4 linked regions of the Homo sapiens genome follow. The protein of the gene in region 3 interacts with the protein of the main gene of each other region in a biochemical or structural test. Each region holds a gene or a part of one and is shown on either strand. Other genes may lie near its edges.

Region 1 (5,373 bases), on a different chromosome or scaffold from region 3:
ACCCGGGAGATGGAGGTTGCAGTGATCCAGCCTGGGCGACAGAGCAAGACTGTGTGTCAAAAAAAAGAAAAAAAAAAAAAAAAAAAAAAAGACCTATCAGGCAGAGATGCAGAAAAGACCTTCAAAGAGGTTTCCCTGGGGTTTCCAGAAGCTGCTGGGAATGTTCGGGGACTTCCCTCACCTGGGAAGGTCAGCATCTGCTCACCCACCCTCCAAATCAGAAGCAAAGCTGATCATTTGATCATTTACCCAGAGGCTTCCTTGCCCTGACACAATGATAGGAGAACATCCTTTGTCACTCACCGTGTCATTTTCCCCATCAGAGGAGGTCTCACCTGATTGCAAAGTAAATGCAGAAGTCATGTCCCAAGCTATTAAAGGCCTTGCTGGGACTGGAACCCAAGGCTAATCCCAAAGCTACTTGGCCAGTTTTTATTTTTTAGAGACAGGGTCTTTCTCTGTCACCCAGGCTGGAGTGCAGTGGTGTCATCACGGCTCACTACAGCCTGGACCTCCCAGGCTCAGGTGATCCTCCCACCTCAGCCTCCTGAGTAGCTGGGACTACTAGTATGCCAGCACGCTTGGTTAGGTTTTTTATTTTTTGTAGATATGGGGTCTTGCTATGTTGCCCAGGCTGGTGTCCAACTCCTGGCCTCCAAGCGATCCTTCTACTTCGGCCTTCTAAATCACTGGGATTATAGGCATGAGCCACGTGCCTAGCCTGCCCAGTGCTCTTCTGTTTTTTCTTCTTTGATTTTGTTTTGTTTTCATTTGAATTCCTTATTTTGGCCTTGATAACTCTTTCCCACCATTCGAAGTCCCCAAAGTAGGAAGGACGCAAAGAGAAATTCTCGGCTGGGGGCAGTGGCTCACGCCTGTAATCCCAGCACTTTGGGAGGCCGAGGCGGGCAGATCACAAGGTCAGGAGATCAAGACCAGCCTGGCCAACATGATGAAATCCCGTCTCTACTAAAAATACAAAAATTAGCCGGGCGTGGTGCTGGGCGCCTGTAATTCCAGCTACTTGGGAGGCTGAGGCAGGAGAATTGCTTGAACCCGGGAGGGAGAGGTTGCAGTGAGCTGAGATTACACCATTGCACTCCAGGCTGGGGACACAGCAAAACTCCATCTCAAAAAGACAACAACAAAAAAAGAATTCTCAGCCAGGCAAAGTGGCTCACGTTGTAATCCCAGCACTTTGGGAGGCCGAGGCGGGCGGATCACCTGAGGTCAGAGTTCAAGACCAGCCTGACCAACATGGAGAAACCCTGTCTCTACTAAAAATACAAAATTTGCCAGGCGTAGTGGCCCATGCCTGTAATCCCAGCTAGTCGGGAGGCTGAGGCCGGAGAATCACTTAAACTCAGGAGGTGAAGGTTGCGGTGAGCTGAGATCGTGCCATTGCACTCCAGCCTGGGCAACAAGAGTGAAACTCTGTCTCAAAAAAAGGAAAAAACAAAAAGAATTCTCCACACCCAAGCCCTCTCCCACAGCCTCCCAGCCTCTCTTCTCATAGCCAGCTAATATTGTCATTTCTCCCACTTCCTTTTAGGGCTATTTTATACATAAATACAGCCTCCCCGAAACTGCCCTTCCCTAATGTGAGGGTGGCATACCACTCATATTCAACATACCTTCTTTTATTTCTTTTTTTTTTTTTTTTGAGATGGAGTTTTGCTCTTGTTGCCCAAGCTGGAGTGCAGTGGCGCAATCTCAGCTCACCGCAACCTCTGCCTCCCAGTTTCAAGAGATTCTCCTGCCTCAGCCTCCCGAGTAGCTGGGATTACAGGTATGTGCCACTATGCCTGGCTAGTTTTTTTTGTATTTTTAATAGAGACGGGGTTTCTCCATGGTGGTCAGGCTGGTCTCGAACTCCTGACCTCAAGTGATCCGCCTCCCTCAGCCTCCCAAAGTGCTGGGATTACAGGCGTGAGCCACCGTGCCCAGCCCATGACATTTTGAGAACTGATGCCCAATTTCCCGCCACAGGGTTGGGCTTATTTATGCTCCCAACAGCACTGTCCTAGGACCTCCTACGTTCCAATAGCCTTGGCAGCACAGCTGTTATCAATTCTTTTTTTTTTTTTTTTTTTTGAGATGGAGTCTTGCTCTGTCGCCCAGGCTGGAGTGCAGTGGCACGATCTTGGCTCACTGCAAGCTCTGCCTCCCGGGTTCATGCCATTCTCCTGCCTCAGCCTCCTGAGTAGCTGGGACCACAGGCGCCTGCCACCATGCCCGGCTAATTTTTTGTAGTTTTAGTAGAGACGGGGTTTCACCATGTTAGCCAGGATGGTCTCGATCTCCTGACCTTGTGATCCGCCCGCCTCGGCCTCCCAAAGTGCTGGGATTACAGGCGTGAGCCACTGCGCCCGGCCATCAATTCTTTTGTTTGTTACCAATATGTGAAAAATGCCATCCCAGGGCTAGTTTTAACTCATATCTTTTTTTTTTTTTTTAAATAAAAATGGGGTTTTGCTATGTTGCCTAGGATGGATTCGAACTCCTAGGATTCGAACCCCTGGGTTAAAGCAATCCTCCCATCACAGCCTCAGGAGCAGCTGGGATTACAGGTGCACACCACGATGCCCAGCTAAATTATTTACTTTTTTTTTCCGGTAGAAACAGGGTCTTGGATGGGCACAGTGGCTTACACCTGTAATCCCAGCACTTTGGGAGGCCGAGGCGGGCGGACCACTAGGTCAGGAGATTGAGACCATCCTGGCTAACACAGTGAAACCCCGTCTCTACTAAAAATACAAAAAAATGAGCCGGGCATGGTGGCAGGCGCCTGTAGTCCCAGCTACTCGGGAGGCTGAGGCAGGAGAATGGCGTGAACCCGGGAGGCGGAGCTTGCAGTGAGCCGAGATCACACCACTGCACTCCAGCCTGGGCGACAGAGTGAGACTCCGTCTCAAAAAAAAAAAAAAAAAAAAGAAAGAAACAGGGTCTCACTCTGTTGCCCAGGCTGGTCTCAAACTCCTGGGCTCAAACCATCCTTCTGCCTCAGCCTCTGGAGTAGTTGGGATTATAGGTACAAGCCACCACACTTGGCTTAATTTGCATCTTTTATTAAAGTGTCTGAAGCAGGACCGTGTCATATGTTCAAAGAGTGAGGCATAGAGAGATGGCATTTTTTTTTTCTTGAGATGGAATCTTGCTCTGTTATCCAGACTGGAGTGCACTGGCACGATCGCGGCTCACTGCAATCTCTGCCTCTCAGGTTCAAGCGTTCTCCTGCCTCAGCCTTCCAAGTAGCTGGGATTACAGGCGCTTGACACCATGCCCGGCTGATTTTTGTATTTTCAGCAGAGACAGGGTTTCGCCATGTTGGCGAAACTTAAACTCCTGATCTCAGGTGATCCGCCAGCCTCAGCCTCTCAAAGTGCTGGGATTACAGGCATGAGCCACCGCACCCAGCCTGTAAATACTTTAATTGTACCCAAAGAAATTCACAAAGGGACTTTCCAAGGATGTCCCCACCTGCCCTGCAAGGAGCCCCTCCTTGACCCTACGAGCAAGTGGCAAAGATTCCCCCAGGCCTCTGCAGGTGCCCCTGCACGTCTCTCCCACCGGGTCTGCCTAGTCCAGCCCTCCGGGCTCAGTTACTCACAGTACACGGTGAGGAAGGTTTTAGCTGTTGACTGCCCATCAGGGCAGTTTGAATAGCACATTGGTTGGCTATCTTCTTGCACATTGCTCAGTTCATACACCTTCCGGTTGTTCCCAGGCAGGAGCAACTCCTTTTTAGGCAACGGGGTCTCTATGCCCAACAACTTGGGCTGGTCACAGGAGGTGCTGCATGTCACCAGCACGGAGCCTCCCCGGGGCAGGATGACTTTTGAGGGGGACACAGATGTCTGGGCATTGCCAGGTCCTAGAAGAAACGAGGGAAGAGGCGACAGGCATTACAAATCAGGTTCATCAAGGGAATGTGCGCCCAGCCTGTGCTGGGTGCTGGAGGCACAGCCTTAACAAGACAATACTTTGCCTTCGATGTGGAAGTTAAAGAGAAAATTCATGAGCAGGCCGGGTGTGGTGGCTCACGCCTGTAATCCCAGCACTTTGGGAGGCCAAGGCGGGCAGATCACTTGAGGTCAGGAATTTGAGATCAGCCTGGCCAACATGACAAAGCCCCGTCTCCACTAAAAATACAAAAATTAGCTGGGCATGGTGGGACGTGCCTGTAGTCCTAGCTATTTGGGAGGCTGAGGCACAAGAATCACTTGAACCTGGGAGGTGGAGGTTACAGTGAGCCAAGATTGTGCCACTGCACTCCAGCCTGAGCAACAGAACGAGACTCTGTCTCCAAAAAAAAAAAAAAAAAAATTATGAGCAAACAAGATAATTAATAACTGATGTTAATATGAGCTTTGACAAAAACAAAACAGGGTGATAGAATAGACAGTGCTTTGGTGACAGGGTAATGTTTCAGCAGAGATCTAAATGACGAGAAAGGGCTGGCTGTCCGGAGAAAAGGGAAATAAGTTCCAGGCAAGTACAGATGTCCCGGGGCAGGGTGGCTGGAGCTGAGTGAGCAAGGATGAAGAGGGGGAGATTAATTCAGGAAGATCCCGTGAGCACTGAAGGCCATGCTAAAGATGTGTTCTTTTATTTTTTTTTTTTTTGAGATGGAGTCTCGCTTTGTCACTCAGACTGGAGTGCAGTGGCGCAATCTCAGCTCACTGCAACCTTTGCCTCCCGGGTTCAAGTGATTCTCCTGCCTCAGCCTCCAGAGTATCTGGGATTACAGGCAAGCACCACCACGCCCAGCTAATTTTTGTATTTTTAATAGAGACGGGGTTTCGCCACGTCGGCCAGCCTGCTCTCAAACTCCTGGCCTCAAGTGATCCGCCCGCCTCAGCCTCCCAAAGTGCTGGGATTACAGGCGTGAACCACCACGCCCAGCCACATGTGTTCTTTATACTGAGGGCAATAGGGAGCCATGGAAGGACTTTAGCCATCACTTTTTTTTTTTTAAACGGGTCTCCCTCTGTTACCCAGGCTGGAATACAGTGGCACAATCATAGCTCACTGTAACCTTGAACTCCTGGGCTCAAGTGATCCTCCCATCTCAGCCTCCCAAGTAGCTGGGACTACAGGACACCACCATACCCGGCTAATATTTGAAAAACATTTTTTTTTTTTTGAGACGGAGTTTAGCTCTTGTTGCCCAGGCTGGAGTGCAATGGCACGATCTCAGTTCACCGCAACCTCCGCCTCCCAGGTTCAAGCGATTCTCCTGCCTCAGCCTCCCGAGTAGCTGGGATTACAGGCATGCGCCACCACGCCCGGGTAATTTTGTACTTTTAGTAGAGACGGGGTTTCTCCATGTTGGTCAGGCTGGTCTCAAACTCCTGACCTCAGGTAATCCGC
Region 2 (5,373 bases), on a different chromosome or scaffold from region 3:
AGCCATACGGTCAGCCTCTAGGCGCTCGGCCTCCTCCTGTGCCCGCTTCCTCTCCTCCTCCAGCTGCAGGGCCCTCTGAATCTGCTCCGAGAGCTCTGCAAAGACACAAAGCCAGAGCCATTCAAACCCTCAGCCCAGGGACCTAGGAGCCCTCGCTTTCCATTCCCACCCCCAAAGCCACAGAGCCCTAGACCAAGTCACAGGTTGAGGGGATGTCTTCCAGTGACCCTGGAGGAAAGCACTTCACAGAGCTCATTGCTGCTGTATCCATGACAACTTCCTCAAGATGGCTAGAAACCCGTCCAACGCCAGCCAGGCGCCCTCTCTCTGGCATGCCTGACTCAACCCTCTTGGCGCTACTCTCCCCAGGTCAGCCGCCCGCTGTGCTGGTGGTCCACACTCCACTCAGAACACAGAACACCCTTCCCATGTGTGCTGTAAGGGCTGCCAGTGAATACAGCATCTGTGGCGCCTTGTGTAATCGGCCCAGCTGCTGGGGTTGTTGACTGGAGCTGTGCTGGGAAGTCTGGCTCTGAACACGCCTTTGGGTTTTAGTCTAGAGGTCGAGGGCAGTGCAGCATGGCCCTGTCAGTCATGGGCTGGGGGACTGTGGGCAAATCACTGTACCGCACCAAACCTTACTGTCCTCATCGGGGAAACTGGGTGATTGAGCACTTACCGCAAAAGACTAGGGAAATTTTAAAATACAAAGTCTTAGAACAACTAGCATCAAAGTTAAATAAGTACAGAACTGTTTTCCAAACCAAATAACCATTTTATCATTTCGGCTGTGAGTCTGCGCTGTGGGACACGTTCTTGGTTTCCTTCCTGGTGAGTGGGTGGGTGGGTGTGGCCCCTGCTACTCTGTGGAAATGCATGACCCAGTGTAGAGTGCCAGCCCCAGGGCGCCTGACCTCTCTCTGCCTTCTTTGTCTTCTCCTCATAGTCCTGCAGCCGCAGCATCAACTCCTCCTTCTCGCGCATCATCTGCTCTTTCTCTCTCTCCACGGTTTCTCTCCTTTTCTTCTCTGTTTCCAGCTGTTGCCTGGTGCAGGGAAAAAGAGGCACAGGGAGATTTAGACTCTGGCAGGAAAGTGAGGGGTCAACACACTTCACGGGTACTTGAAGCTCCAGGATGGACTTGGTATCCTGAGGGCCACCCTAGCCTGCTGCCAGCCTGAGCTGCCTGACGGAGCAGCCGCTCCAGGGCTGACAACAGGCTCAGCACCACAGCAACCGCCCAGAGACAAAGGCCTCGAAGATCCCAGCGTGGTGACTGGGTTCCATTCCACCACACTCTCCCCATCAGCTCCACAGTCACCTGACAGGCACTGGCTGCCAGTGGCTGAGTTGGGAGAACACAGGCCCCCCCCACTCTGGCCTCACGCGCTCACCGCTCCAGCTGCTTCTGATGCTTCTCCTCCCGGGCCTGGGCCTTCATCTGCTGCACCTCGATGGTGTCAGGCTTCCTGCGGCGCATATACAACTCATGGTTGCCCATGCAGAGCTGCAGGATCCGCTTGTTGATTCTCAGACGTGGGGCATAAAACACAAAGTCCTACAAAACAGAACAGGGCCACCTGGACTCAAGCTCCTTCGTTTGGTTTTCTTCTCCAAACCATCCTTCACAAAGGTCCAGAACTTTTCTAAAAGAACAAATGTAGCAGAACAGGGATGGCAGCATCTCGGCACTAGGAATGTGCATTCTCCAGGACAGATGGAGGAAGGGCACGTGCCGCGTGTGTGTGCGGTTATGTGTGGGTATGTAGCACTGGGAAAGTGCATTCTCTGGGACGGGTGGAGGAAGGGCAGGTGCCGCGTGTGTGTGCAGTTGTGTGTGGGTAGGGACATCCTGCATGCACACTGAAATGCCACTGCACGTTAACTGCAAAGCTTTTCCAAGGTGAGAACTCTCAGCCTTGGGAAACCTTTCAAGTCTCAGAGCTGCCTGCTCTTCCAGGTAGCCACCTTTCATGATGTCCTCTCCAGCCTCACTGCTGCTCCCCATCCCCGATGCTTGCCTGGACTGCCTCTGCTGCTATTTGGGCTTCCTGTCTCCTCTGCCACAGCCTCCCCTCCCACACTGTTATTGCTACACTGACTGGGTCACCACCCCGACCCATCACTGCCAGCCTGGGAGCTCCAGGATGAGCTCCAGGGCCTGGGCCCAACCCACACAGAGACCTTCCAGCTCTGGGCCCAGCCTCCGCTGTGCACTCGGTTCTCTCTCCTCAAAGCTATCCAGCCCTGCTCCTGCCACACCAGCTACAGGTACTCGCCGCAGTGGCACTGTCACTTCACTCCAGTGACTCCTTTCAGCATCTCACTCCTATGAGGCCATCAGCTCCCAAGGGCAGGGGCCACACATTCACTCATCTCTTATCTTCCCAGGGTATTTGAGGTGTGCAGTACCTGCCAGGCACTGCCAGCTCGTGCAGCACAGACAGCCACGTGCGAGCTCCACAGCCTTGAGCACATCCCTTCACCAGGCTCAGTGCCTTCAACCATAAGGCAGGGATGCCGGTATCTCAAGGGACTTCAGATATGGGACTCAATCCTCCCAGCAGTCCCATTAGATGCTGGCGTCCCCGCCTTATCGGTGACGTTCAGGAGGTGCTCGGCGCAGGAAGAGCTGGCTGACACACACAGCGGTCACTCCAATTGCTAGTGCCTTGCAAGACCACAACCAGAGGAGCCTCCTGGAAAACAAGGCAGAATCACAGCCTTCGGGAAACTCGTGACCATGACTGGAAACATTTGGGACACAGCTGACAATCTTGGTCCCAACTCCTTGCTACTGCTGTGATTAGCTTACAAGACAGAAGAATATGGTTTAGAAACTCCCATGAAAAGTTATTTTTCAGTGACTCTGTTGGCTTCCTCTTAACCTCAGGGCCCCCAGCATCCAGCTTCTGACCATTTGGAACAGAGGGACAGGGTGGCTAAAACAAAAAAACAGTGCGATATATCCCACAGCAACTTCTGAGACCTAACGAGGAACCGGCTGAGCGGGCTCATCAACACATCCGAGAAGAATCTATTTAGCTTCAGTCTTTTCATCTGTTCCAGAAATCCTAGGGTGAGAGGTGATGCCAAGCCCTGAGAGCCCATGAACTTCCTGGGTGGGGCTGTCTTTGGGGTTTCACACCCTTGCTGTTAAGTCATTGGGTTTCCCAGGGAGGAGTCTGTGGAGCTGGGAGCAATCGGCATTTTTATGACCCACCTATCCCTTATTACACAAGAGGAAACAATCCTGCATTACAGCTTTGGAGGACTCTACCAAATAGGCCCTGACTCAGAAAACGCTGATTAGCACCAACTCCCCTTTATGGGGTTGTGGGGGTGCATGGGTGGGGGGATCAATGAAAAACCTCAATGGTTAACATAACAATGTCTCCCTCTCTCCCTTTCCCTGCAGAAGACAGGTCCTGCCAGCAACGGGAACCAGAATTTGGGGAGTCCACTGCCAGTGGGTGAGGGAGGATGGTGCCTGGCAGGAAATCTCTCCCAGTGCCTTTGAAGGAAGCCGGTTTCTCACTTCAAGTTAAAACAAAGACTCATACTGAAATGTTTCTAAATCCAAGTCCCTAACCTGATGCAGGATGCAGCTTCCTGATGCAGAACCACAACACGACAAGACCTGGAGCAGGGTTTTTAAACTGGCCGAGGACCAGCAAGGTAAAAATGCAAACCAGGCACAAGGAAAGTTCAAGAAAAATAAACCCAAGACCCTACAAATACAGAAGGAGAGAAGGTAAAAGAGCCCCTTTTCAAGTCCCCAGGATGCCAGGAAACTCTCCCACAAGAGGCCAATCCCAAGGCTCATCTGGCCGCAGAGATGGCAGGAGGCAGCCGCGGGAGGCAAAAAGGCAGCGGGGCTCCTGGGAAGGTCACGTGGGGGAAGCGTCCGAGGAGTCAGAGCGGAAACGCTGCTTACTTTCTCCAAATTTCAGATGCCTCAGAGCCTTCTGCCTTTTCCACAAGGCCACAGGAACAAAACGCCCTTTTGAAAGGGAAAAGGCAGCCGCCTCAGCCCCTCATAGTGTCACCTGGGCAGGCCGTGTCAGCTGTATACAAGGTCCCATCTAAAGAGCCAAAGTGTGGCCCCAAACTGCTGTATGCACCTTGGCAGGGAAGAGAAGCTGGCTTTTAAAAAGGAGACGCCAGTTGTTGGGTGAGAACTGGACAAAGACTCATTTGTGAGTTCACAGCAGAAACCGCCTGGGGTGAAGATGACCCGTGAAAGTCAACACAAGATAAGGAATCCCACCGCCTCAAACTTTGGGCCTCTTCTTTTTTACAAGAAAGTTCGATGTCGAAAACTTGAACTTCTTCTGCCCAAAGTTTACAGACTGAGGTGGGGCAGTGCCTCGAGCAGCCCTGGGGTGCTGTGGGGGTGACAGAACTCCACCTCCTCAAACCAGCAGTGCCCACTCAAGGCAAATGCTGCCTCCTCAGTGTGGCTCCTGCCCAACCTGCCTAAAGGAATCTCACCCCCATCTTCTGATCCGGCTTAGTTTTTAATCACAGCTGTACTGTTAAATTTACTACCAGGAAGCATCTCAGTTGCCTTTTTAACCCTTTCCTTCACGTAAATGTAGGCTCACCAGGGTAGGAGCTTTGCCTTGTTGATGGTGCACACAGCCCTGGAAGAGTGCCTGGGACAGCGTGCCACCAGCGAATGTTTCTTTTGCTTACGAGATGGCTTCACATGAGGCTACTCTATAATAAAGGCACATGCACGAGATGCGTTACAATGGCTTCTGCTTGGGGCTTATTATGAAAATATTCTTCAGCTTTTCAAGAGATGGACTTATCATCAAACACACACACACACACACACACACACACACACACACACACACGCACAAACATTCTGAAACAGTCTAGTCCAGAGCTGCTGCTCTAGTCAAATTTTTAATAAGTGTTCTGAAAAGGCAGTAGCGTCACAGAGTACGTAGTAGCCTACTGATGAAGAGATTTCAGCATTTTCTTGCTCTTCTAAACTGTGCCAATCTTACTACCCAAGTGACATGAAGACGCTATGACCCTCCATTCATGCTGTTGCATAATATGAACTGCTGCCATGGAGCCTTAGAGTCTGCATTCAATACGCGTTTAATTTTAAATAACCGTGCAACTACCCACAGAGTAGCAGCCAAGAGTTTGCAAACAGCAGGAGCCCTTTTTTTTTTTTTTTTTTGAGACGGAGTCTAGCTCTGTCACCCAGGCTTGAGTGCAGTGGCGATCTCAGCTCACTGCAACCTCTGCTTCCTGGGTTCAAGCGATTCTCCTGCCTCAGCCTCCCGAGCAGCTGAGATTACAGGCGCCCACCACCACGCCCAGATAATTTTTGTATTTTTAGTAGAGATG
Region 3 (4,096 bases):
TTGATGGGGCTGGATAGCACAGACTGTCTGTAACAAGGGCTGACCGGGCAGGGGTGGTCAGAGGAGAGATAGGGCCAGGTCCCGAGGGGCTTATATGCCACGCTAAGGAAGGAGGGTTCCACCCTGACAGCCTTGGGGATAGAGGAATATCACCTAGACAGAGCAGCGTTTTATTTTATTTTTAAATTTTATTATTATTATATTTTGAGACAGGGTGCCACGCAGGCTGGAGTGCAGTGGTGTGATCATGACTCGCTGCAGTCTGGACCTCTTGGGCTCAAGTGATCTTCCTACCTCATCCTCCTGAGTAGCTGGAACTACAGGTGTGTGCCACGATGCCCAGCTATTTTTCTTTTTTCTTTTTTTTTTTTTTTTGAGACGGAGTCTCATTCTGTCACCCAGGCTGGAGTGCAACGGCGCGATCTTGGCTCACTGCAACCTCCATCTCCCGGGGACCAACAATTCCCCCGCCTCAGCCTCCCGAGTAGCTGGGACTACAGGTGCACACCACCACGCCCGGCTAATTTTTGTACTTTCAGTAGAGATGGGGTTTCACCATGTTGGCCAGGCTGGTCTCGAACTCCTGACCTCAGATGATTGGCCCACCTCAGCCTCTCAAAGTGTTGGGATTACAGGCGTGAGCCACTGTGCCCAGCCCACAGTGACCTTTTAGAAGGGTCCCTGGGACCATCACTAGCAGAGAGCGGAAGGAAATCAAAGGGGAAGTGTCAATAGGATCCCGGTGAGGTGCGATGAGGACTGAAGAGAAGGAAGGGATGCAAGGGTCGGTGGAAGAAGAGCCAGGGACTTGGCACCTGGAGAGCAGGAATGGGGAAAGAGTGGGGCTGCACGGTGGTCCTAAGGCGTTTTGCCTGGGCCACCAGAACGATGCTACTCACCACTCTGGGGACTAGAAGAGAGGAGAAGAGCAGACTTAGGTGTGTTGATTTCACCACTACTTCCAGAATGCAATTCAAACTCTCAGCAGAGCACTATGGCTCACGCAGAGCACTGTGGCTCACGCCTGTAATCCCAGCACTTTGGGAGGCCGAGGCAGGTGGATCACGAGGTCAGGAGATCGAGACCATCCTGGCTAACATGGTGAAACCCTGTCTCTCCTAAAAATACAAAAAAATTAGCCTGGTGTGGTGGCGGGCGCGTGTGGTTCCAGCTACTCAGGAGGCTGAGGCAGGAGAATGGCATGAACCCGTGCCACTGCACTCCAGCCTGGGTGACAGGGTGAGACTCCGTCTCAAAAAACAAAAACAAAAACAAAAACAAACCTCAGAACTCAATTCAAACTCTTGAACTTTTCATAGCATGGCTCCAACCTCCACTTGCAGCCTCATCCCCTACCACTCTCCTCAAACCAGACACCCCCAGGCCACCCCCTTGAACACCTTTTTGACCACTATTTTTTCATATTGTAAAAGTAACAGATATTTATTGTATGAAATTCGGAAAATACAGAAGAGCATAAACAAAATAAAAATCACACATAAACTCACCACTTTGGAGATCAGCATGGAAAACATTTGCGATGGGTCCTTTGTTTCCCTATAAGTGCATATATGGTTGGGAATTTTTATTACAAAACTAAAATCATATGTATTACAGAGGAGTAACTTGCTTTTTTCCCCACTTAACATTATATTGCTGGTATTTTCCAAAGTCATTACATAATTTTCAAAAACATGATTTTTACTGACTATAAGTTCAATAAGCCATTTACAATTATTTTCATAACTAATATATTTAATCTTATACCATATTTTATATTTTCTTTTTTTAAATTTTTTTCCAAGACGGAGTCTTGCTCTGTCGCCCAGACTAGAGTGCAATGACACGATCTCGGCTCACTGCAACCTCTGCCTCCCGGTTTCAAGCAATTCTTCTGCCTCAGACCCCCAAGTAGCTGGGATTACGGGGGCATGCCACCACGCCTGGCTAATTTTTGTATTTTTAGTAGAGACAGGGTTTCACCATGTTGGCCAGGCTGGTTTCAAACTGGCCTCATGATCTGACTGCCTCGGCCTCCCAAAGTGCTGGGATTACAGGTGTGAGCCACCACGCCTGGCCATGTTCTTTCTTTTGAGACAGAGTCTCACACTATTGCCCAGGCTGGAGTGCAGTGGCATGATCACAGCTCACTATAGCCTCAAACTCCTGGGCTCAAGCAATCTTCCCTGCCTTCGCCTCTTGAGTAGCTGGTACCACAGGCGCACACCACTACACCTGGCTAATTTTTCATATTTCAAATTTTTTGTAGAGATAGGGGTCTATGTTGCCCAGGCTGGTCTCCAACTCCTGACCTCAGGTGATCTGCCCGCCTCAGCCTCCTATAGTGCCACCGCATAGCCACTGCACCCAACTATTTTCTTACTGTTCCTTGCTCTATCTCCTTTTTTTTTTTTGAGATGGAGTTTTTTACTTGTCGCCCAGGCTGGAGTGCAATGGCGTGATCTCGGCTCACTGCAACCTCCACCTCCTGGGTTCAAGGGATTCTCCTGCCTCAGCCTCCCAAGTAGCTGGGATTACAGGTGCCCGCCACCACGCCCAGCTAATTTTTTGTATTTTGAAACAGGGTTTCACCATGTTGGTCAGGCTGGTCTTGAACTCCTGACCTCAGGTGATCCACCTGCCTCGGCCTCCCAAAGTGCTGGGATTACAGACGTTGAGCCACCACGTCTGGCCTGCTCTATCTCCTTTTTTTGTTTTCCTTTTTAGTCTTAAAATATCCACTGCTTCTTTTGCTTTGCTTTTTCCTCCAGAAAATTAAAAGACATCTATTGTCGGGCACGGTGGCTCACGCATGTAATCCCAGCACTTTGGGAGGCCGAGGCATACGGATCAGCAGAGGTCGGGAGTTCAAGACCAGCTTGACCAACATGGTGAAACCCCATCTCTACTAAAAATACAAAATTATCCGGGTTTGGTGGTGCATGCCTGTAATCCCAGCTACCTGGGAGGCTGAGGCAGGAGAATTGTTTGAACCCAGGAGGCGGAGGTTCTGGTGAGCCAAGATCACGCCATTGCACTCCAGCCTGGGTAACAAGAGTGAAAACTCCATCTCAAAAAAAAAAAAAAGACATCTATTTCACGTTTGTTCAAAAAAGACTCTATATTGAACTGCTCCACTTTAAAAAATATATATATAAATGTTTACTTTTTGTAGACACGGGGTCTCACTATGTTGCCCAGGCTGGTCTCAAACTCCTGGCTTCAAGCAGTCCTCCTGCCTCAGCTTCTCAAGTAGCTGGTACTACAGGCATGCACCACCACGCCTGGCTAATTTTTTGTGTTTTTGTAGAGACAGGGTCTTTCTATGTTACCCAGGCTGGTCTTGAACTCCTAGACTCAAGCAATCCTCCCTGCTCTGCCTCCCAAAGTGCTGGGATTACAGGCATGAGCCACTGCGCTGGATCTGCTCCACGTTTTTTTTTTTTAATTATGTATTTCCACCTGCTATCCCCTCTGCTGGGAATGCCTTTTCCTTTTCCCAGCTTTGCAAAATCCTTCCCAGCCTTCAAATATCTGAGGCAAGCCTGGGCACAGTGGCTCACACCTATAATCCCAGTATTTGGGGAAGCTTAGGTGGGAGGACCACTTGAGCCCAGGAGTTTGAGACCAGCCTGGGCAACACAGCAAGACCCTGTCTGTACAAATTAAAAATTAAAAAAAAAAATTAGCTGGGCATGTTGGTGCACACCTGTGATCGCAGCTACTTGGGAGGCCCAGGAGGTTGAGGCTGTGGTGAGCTGTGATTGCACCACTGCCCTCTAGTCTGGGTGACAGAATGAGACCTCATCTCAAAAGAAAGAATCTCTGAGGCGTCATCTCCATTCATTCATTCATTCATTCATTCATTCATTCAAATGCATATTCATGGAGGATCTGCAACATGCCAGGCACAGCAGCCACCAGGAATGAAGCAGTGGCTGGGTGCAGTGGCTCATGCCTATAGTCCCAGCATTTTGGGAGGCTGAGGCAGGTGGATCTCTTGTGCCCGGGAGTTTGAGACCAGCCGGGACAACATGGTGAAACCCCATCTCTACAAAAAATACAAAAATTAGCCAGGTGTGGTGGTTCTCATATG
Region 4 (5,373 bases), on a different chromosome or scaffold from region 3:
CAGCCTCTCAAAGTGCTGGGATTACAGGCATAAGCCCCTGCACCAGCCATTTATTTCTTATACAACTTGCAGGATGAGGCGAATGATGTATTCCCCATTTTACAAGGTCACCCAACCAGACAGCGGGAGAGCCAGGATTCCAACCCAGGACTCAATATCCGTGAAGCCTTCACTCTTGGCAGACAGAAGAGGAGGAAGAACTGAGGTGGGCGTGTGAGATGTGGGGAGACTAAGGCGGAGGAGGGGGTTCACACTCACAGAGCACACGGAGCATGACTGGAGCAGAGGCAGCAGCCCCAGTGGGGAGCTCAGCCAGGCAGTGGTACATCCCAGCTTGAGCACGAGCCACGTGGGTGAAGGCGAGAGTGGGCACAGGCTCCGCGTGCAGCCGCCGGTCATTCCAGAACCATGCAAAGGTGGAGTTGCCCACAGGCCCAGGGCCACCCAGGAGGCGGCAGCTGAGGTTCAGGGCAGCGCCCTCAGGCACGTCCAGGCCAGGCTCTGCCACCACGCGTGCACCTGCGGGCGGAGGATAGAGAGATGATTGGGGATCTGTAGGCCTTGGGGGCTGGAGCCTCTGGGTGGGACCTCTGAGGGGCCTCTGCACATTGTGGGAAGGTCTCAGTCTGACTTGGTATAGGGCTTTCCAAGGTGGAACCATGCCCCCTCCAGTGGGAGCTGTGCCCCCTCCACCAGATTAGGCTTCTCAAGGCAGAGCTTTCTCAGACCAGACAGCCCGCTCTAGTGGGAGCTCCAGCCCCTCTCGTGGACTTGGACCTGAGAGCATCAGAGCCCCTCCTCCTCCCCTCTCTTCCACTCACCTTCTACCTGCAACCGCCCGATGGTGCTGATTGAGCCCAGCAAGTTTTGGGCTGTGCAAACATAGGTGTCATCACCTGCAGGCACATCTTGCACCTGCAGCCGTAGGGCGTTTCGGGCCACCTGGACATGGCCTGTCCCTGATGCCAAGCTGTGGACCCCGCTGCTCGTGGCCAGCACCTTGCCATCATGAGATAGGGCCAGCTCAGCAGGTGGCTCACTGTCCACAGTGCACTGTATCACAGCCATGGATCTGGCCCTGGAGTCCCGGAAGGAGGACAGGACAGCGTCCTGAGGGGCATCTGTGGGCAGGCAGGGCACAGATGGGGACCTTGCTTAGGCACCCTGTACTGCTCATTGCCTAGCTGCCTGGGGTTGGTCAGGCTGAGGCCTCTGGACCAATGGCCACTTCCTAGAAGTGACACCTTCCCAGGAGTCCTGTGGGCAGAGTGCTCCAGGCAGGGCTTATAGGACTGTCTCTTTCTCTAGCACCTATGTCCTCTTTCCCCAACTGCCCATTCCTGGGCCCACTGCAGTCCTTTGCCCACTCCCACCAGAGCCCAGAAGCACCCTCCACCACCCTCCTCCTGGGCAGCCCTGGCCAAGGACCCTCTGCTCACAGAGGACTTGCAGGGCAGCAGGACGGGAGCTGCGGGTGCCCTGGGCATCCTGGGCCTGGCAAGAGTAGGCGCCTGCATGAGCCCGCGTGGCCACCAGGAATGAGAGTGAGGCAGCTGGACCCTCCTGCAGCCAACGACCGTTGTGGTACCAAGTATAGAGTGTGGGTGCGTGGGCAGCAGGGTCCGCACAGGTCACTGTGATGGGGGCACCTTCAGGCACGGCAGCCTCCGGAGCCAGGATCACCCGCACACCTGTGCCAAGGAGGCCAGGATCAGCCGGGCCCAGCCGGACACCACAGTGGGCTTCCATCCCAGTGGGCTTGGCCTAGGCCCTGCCTTACCCTCCAGCCGCAGCTCCAGGGACGTGTTGGCCTGGCCCAGAGGGCTGCGGGCAGAGCAGCTGTAGAAACCCTCATCCCTGGGCTGTGGCCCTCGCAGCTCCAGGCGCAGGGTGTTGGGGACAGAGGCTGCTGTCGAGGAGGCCAAGAGGCGACCGGCGTGGCTGAGGGCCAGCTGGGCGGGCGGGCGGCTGTCCACAGTGCACAGTACCAGGGCCAGCTGCCCGCCATGGCTCTCCAGGAGGTAGGTCAGGCGCAGGTTGCGGGGCGCGTCTGCAGGGCATGAGAGGCTTACACGGAGTCACAGGCAGCAGCCTGCAGGAGGCCAGTTTGCAGGTGGCATTCAAACTCAGGAGGGCCCTGGCTCCCCACCCCTATGGCTCCCAACCACCCAGTCTGAGGCACTGCTCCTCTGCCCAGACAGGACTCACCCCAGCGCCCCCTACTCTTAATGCTCCTTGCCCAGTGCTCCACTAGCTACTGGGTACCGAGTTCCCCACTGGACACCTGTCGGGTTCCGGCCATGCCGTGATCCCTGTGGGCTTCTGTCATTCCTGTGAGTCCCACCCTGCATCCAGCCAGACTCACAGAGGACGTCCAAGGTGATAGGTCTGGAGAGGCGGGGTGCCCGACCAGGGGGGCCCACACCGCAGCGGTAGGAGGTGGCATCCCTGACTGTGACGTTGGGCAGGGGGATGGAGTGGGCATCCAGGCGCTGCTGCCCATCCTGGTACCATGTGTAGGTGAGCTGGGCCGGGTGAGTGGTCCACACAAGGCAGGTCAGGTTCACCAGCTGCCCCTCCCGCACGGTAGCCCCGGGCCACACCTGCACATTCACAGCTGGGGAGAGGGAGGGCACAGGACACCAGTGAGGGTCTTGAGGCTGTGTACAGCAGGCCACCTGTCTCCATGTGGGTGAGCTACTCCTACTGCTGGGGAGCCCCTTGGCCTTTGGGAGCCTTGGGTGGCCCACCTATAAATGTGGCTTAGAAGTCAAGCTTGGGAATAGCCCACTGGCTCCTGAGTGGTCCCAAGTAGAGTTCCACAGAGTCCTGGAAAGCCCTGAGCCCCTCCCTGACCCTGGCTGGGGGCAAATGGGGAGACCACAGACCTCCCCTCCCCTGCTGCACTTTCTCCTGAAATTCCCTGTTTAGTTTTATCCACTGGGCATACTTGTAAAATTTGGTGTTTATAAAAGGTTCTCCTAAGAAACTCAAGTCTGGAGTCCACCATCGTTAGGAAGGGTGGGAATGGGGACTATTCCCGTGCCCCCAGGCTTCTAGAACCCTGTCCCACCTCCTCTCCTCTTTTAAAGGACACACACACACACACACACACACACACACACACACACACACTGACCTTGAGCGTCGAAGTCAGCTGAGGCCGAGGCCTGGCCCAGGGTGTTGGAGGCCTCACAGATATAGACACCCTCATCCTCCAGCATAGCCCCGTGGATCTCCAGACGCAGTGTGTTGGGGGCCACAGCCACATGCAGCCTGGGAGAGCTGCCTTCGGGTCCCCCCACACCTTGTAGGGTGGAGGCCACAAGGCGATCCCCGTGGAGCAGCCGCAGCTGGGCCGGAGGGTCACTGTCCACACGGCACAGGAGGAGGCCCAGTCGTCCAGGGCCTGTGTCCATCAGGGTAGTGAGTGTGACGTGGCGTGGGGCATCTACACAGGGTGGGGAGTGGTCAGGACCCAGCCAGGGGGGTCCCTCATCCAGGGCTCTGTCATGTGACACAGCCCAGGACTGGGGGACTGCATTCCTTCCCCCACACCTGGATGGGACAAAAGTCCTTACAGGACACGTGGAGGCTGATGGGTGCAGCTAGGCTCGTGGTGGCTGAGCCTGGGGCCTGGGCTTGGCAATGATAGGCCCCAGCTTGTGTCAAAGTTATGGCTGCAAAGCGGAGCGTGGCCGAGGTCGACTCCTGGAGGGGCTGGCCATCCCGATACCAACGATATGAGGTCCCCTCTGGGACTCCTGTGTGTACCTGGCAGCTCAGGACCACAGCCTGGCCCTCTTGGAGCTCAGGTGATGGTGACACCTGGACCCAGGCTCCTGCAGGGGAAAACCAAGAGCAGGTGAGGGCTCTCCACCACACCTCTCACAGTCTGGGACCATGTGCGTGTCCACCTAGGACTACACAACCCAACCCCATGTGCTGGAGCCGCAGCCCCTTCCAGACCACCGCCAGGGCCCACTCAGCCCTATGCCTTGGCCCCTCCTGCTCCCCACTCTCCTGCACAGGCTCCATCCTGGCATTTACCTCCCACCACCTGGTGGGATGGTTTTACTGTGTCAGTCATATCTCGCCTACCAAAGCGTAAGCCTTATGGGCACTGGACTTGTGTGACCTGTAACCCCAGTTCCAGGCACTGTGCCTGCATGTGTTAGCTCCTGACAAATGTTGGTTCAACCCATAAAGTACTGAAAAGGGAGGGATTTAGATCATCCCGGGGCCATTGTCCTAACTAGGATCTGGACTCAGCATGGGTGACCGAGGGCTTGGAAGGGAATGTTAGCAGCTATGTTATCTTGAGCGCTCTCGCCAGGCCAGCCCTGCATCCAGACTCCAGGCCACAAGAGCACAGGACCTGGGGACCAGGCAAAGGGCAGCTCCTCAGTGGCCCCTGGGTGTGAAGCAGGAGAACCCCAGGTTGCAGGGAGTGAGATGGAGGGACAGCTGGAATGCTAAGCAAGAACACAGACCATGCCTGAGACCACAGCTAGCAGGGTCATGCAACTGGGGAAAAGCTCCTAAAACTCAAACCTTCAATTTCTTCCTGCGAAATAGGTATGCTAAGTAAGAAAAGATACACAGAACCAAGGCTCAAAGTAAATGTCCCAAAATTGGTGCTGTCGGTCACCGTGGTGGAAGAAACACTCATGTTCCTTTGACCTTCGCATTATGGGCATTATCTTTCCTTTTTCCTGGTTTATTTGTTTAGGGAGAATTTTTTTTTTTTTAAGACAGAGTCTCACTCTGTCATCCAGGCTAGAGTGAAGTACAATTTTGGCTCACTGCAACCTCCATCTCCCAGGTTCAAACGATTCGCCTGCCTTAGCCTCCCGAGTAACTGGGATTACAAATGCCCACCACCACACCTAGCTAATTTTTGTATTTTTAGTAGAGTGTTGGCCAGGCTGGTCTTGAACTCCTGACCTCAAGTGATCCGCCCGCCTCAGCCTCCCAAAGTGCTGGGATTACAGGCATGAGCCATGGTGCCCGGCCTGAGGGAGGATTTTTATAGAGACTATATATATACACACACACAAACACACACACACACACACACACACACGTATGTGTATATAAATAAAGAATATGAATATATTATGCATAAGAATACACATAATGTATATTTGTATGTGTATATACTCATACATAAACATATATGCATAATATAAATATACATATGTATGAGAATGTTTACTATGTAACAAAATTATATGATCACAAAACAAGTTATTTCAGAAAGTGCTCCCACCAAGCAAGCCACTCTGTGAATTGCCATTGCCTCCTAGTGGCTGCTGCAGTTATTACAGGTGAAAATATCTAGCTGGAGGCAAAGGGAGGCCTTCTGCTGGC

What was found. Proteins that work in one complex are often made in the same cells at the same time.
Region 1: the proteins of SPN (region 3) and ICAM1 form a complex in vitro, tested with the Homo sapiens proteins (one large-scale study listed by IntAct).
Region 2: the proteins of SPN (region 3) and EZR form a complex in vitro, tested with the Homo sapiens proteins (one study listed by BioGRID).
Region 4: the proteins of SPN (region 3) and SIGLEC1 form a complex in vitro, tested with the Homo sapiens proteins (one large-scale study listed by IntAct).

Annotation. Positions count from the first base shown.
Region 1 is NC_000019.10:10,273,266-10,278,638, reverse strand, and holds part of ICAM1 (intercellular adhesion molecule 1 precursor), read right to left. Parts: intron 3,875-5,373; coding exon 3,611-3,874; intron 1-3,610. UniProt on the Homo sapiens protein: ICAM proteins are ligands for the leukocyte adhesion protein LFA-1 (integrin alpha-L/beta-2).
Region 2 is NC_000006.12:158,769,850-158,775,222, forward strand, and holds part of EZR (ezrin), read right to left. Parts: intron 1,559-5,373; coding exon 1,395-1,558; intron 1,046-1,394; coding exon 915-1,045; intron 96-914; coding exon 1-95. UniProt on the Homo sapiens protein: Probably involved in connections of major cytoskeletal structures to the plasma membrane. In epithelial cells, required for the formation of microvilli and membrane ruffles on the apical pole. Along with PLEKHG6, required for normal macropinocytosis.
Region 3 is NC_000016.10:29,668,195-29,672,290, reverse strand, and holds the end of SPN (leukosialin precursor), read right to left. Parts: 3' UTR 1,415-4,096; downstream 1-1,414. UniProt on the Homo sapiens protein: Predominant cell surface sialoprotein of leukocytes which regulates multiple T-cell functions, including T-cell activation, proliferation, differentiation, trafficking and migration.
Region 4 is NC_000020.11:3,691,082-3,696,454, forward strand, and holds part of SIGLEC1 (sialoadhesin isoform 1 precursor), read right to left. Parts: intron 3,843-5,373; coding exon 3,582-3,842; intron 3,452-3,581; coding exon 3,140-3,451; intron 2,618-3,139; coding exon 2,366-2,617; intron 2,051-2,365; coding exon 1,781-2,050; intron 1,692-1,780; coding exon 1,440-1,691; intron 1,122-1,439; coding exon 822-1,121; intron 520-821; coding exon 259-519; intron 1-258. UniProt on the Homo sapiens protein: Macrophage-restricted adhesion molecule that mediates sialic-acid dependent binding to lymphocytes, including granulocytes, monocytes, natural killer cells, B-cells and CD8 T-cells.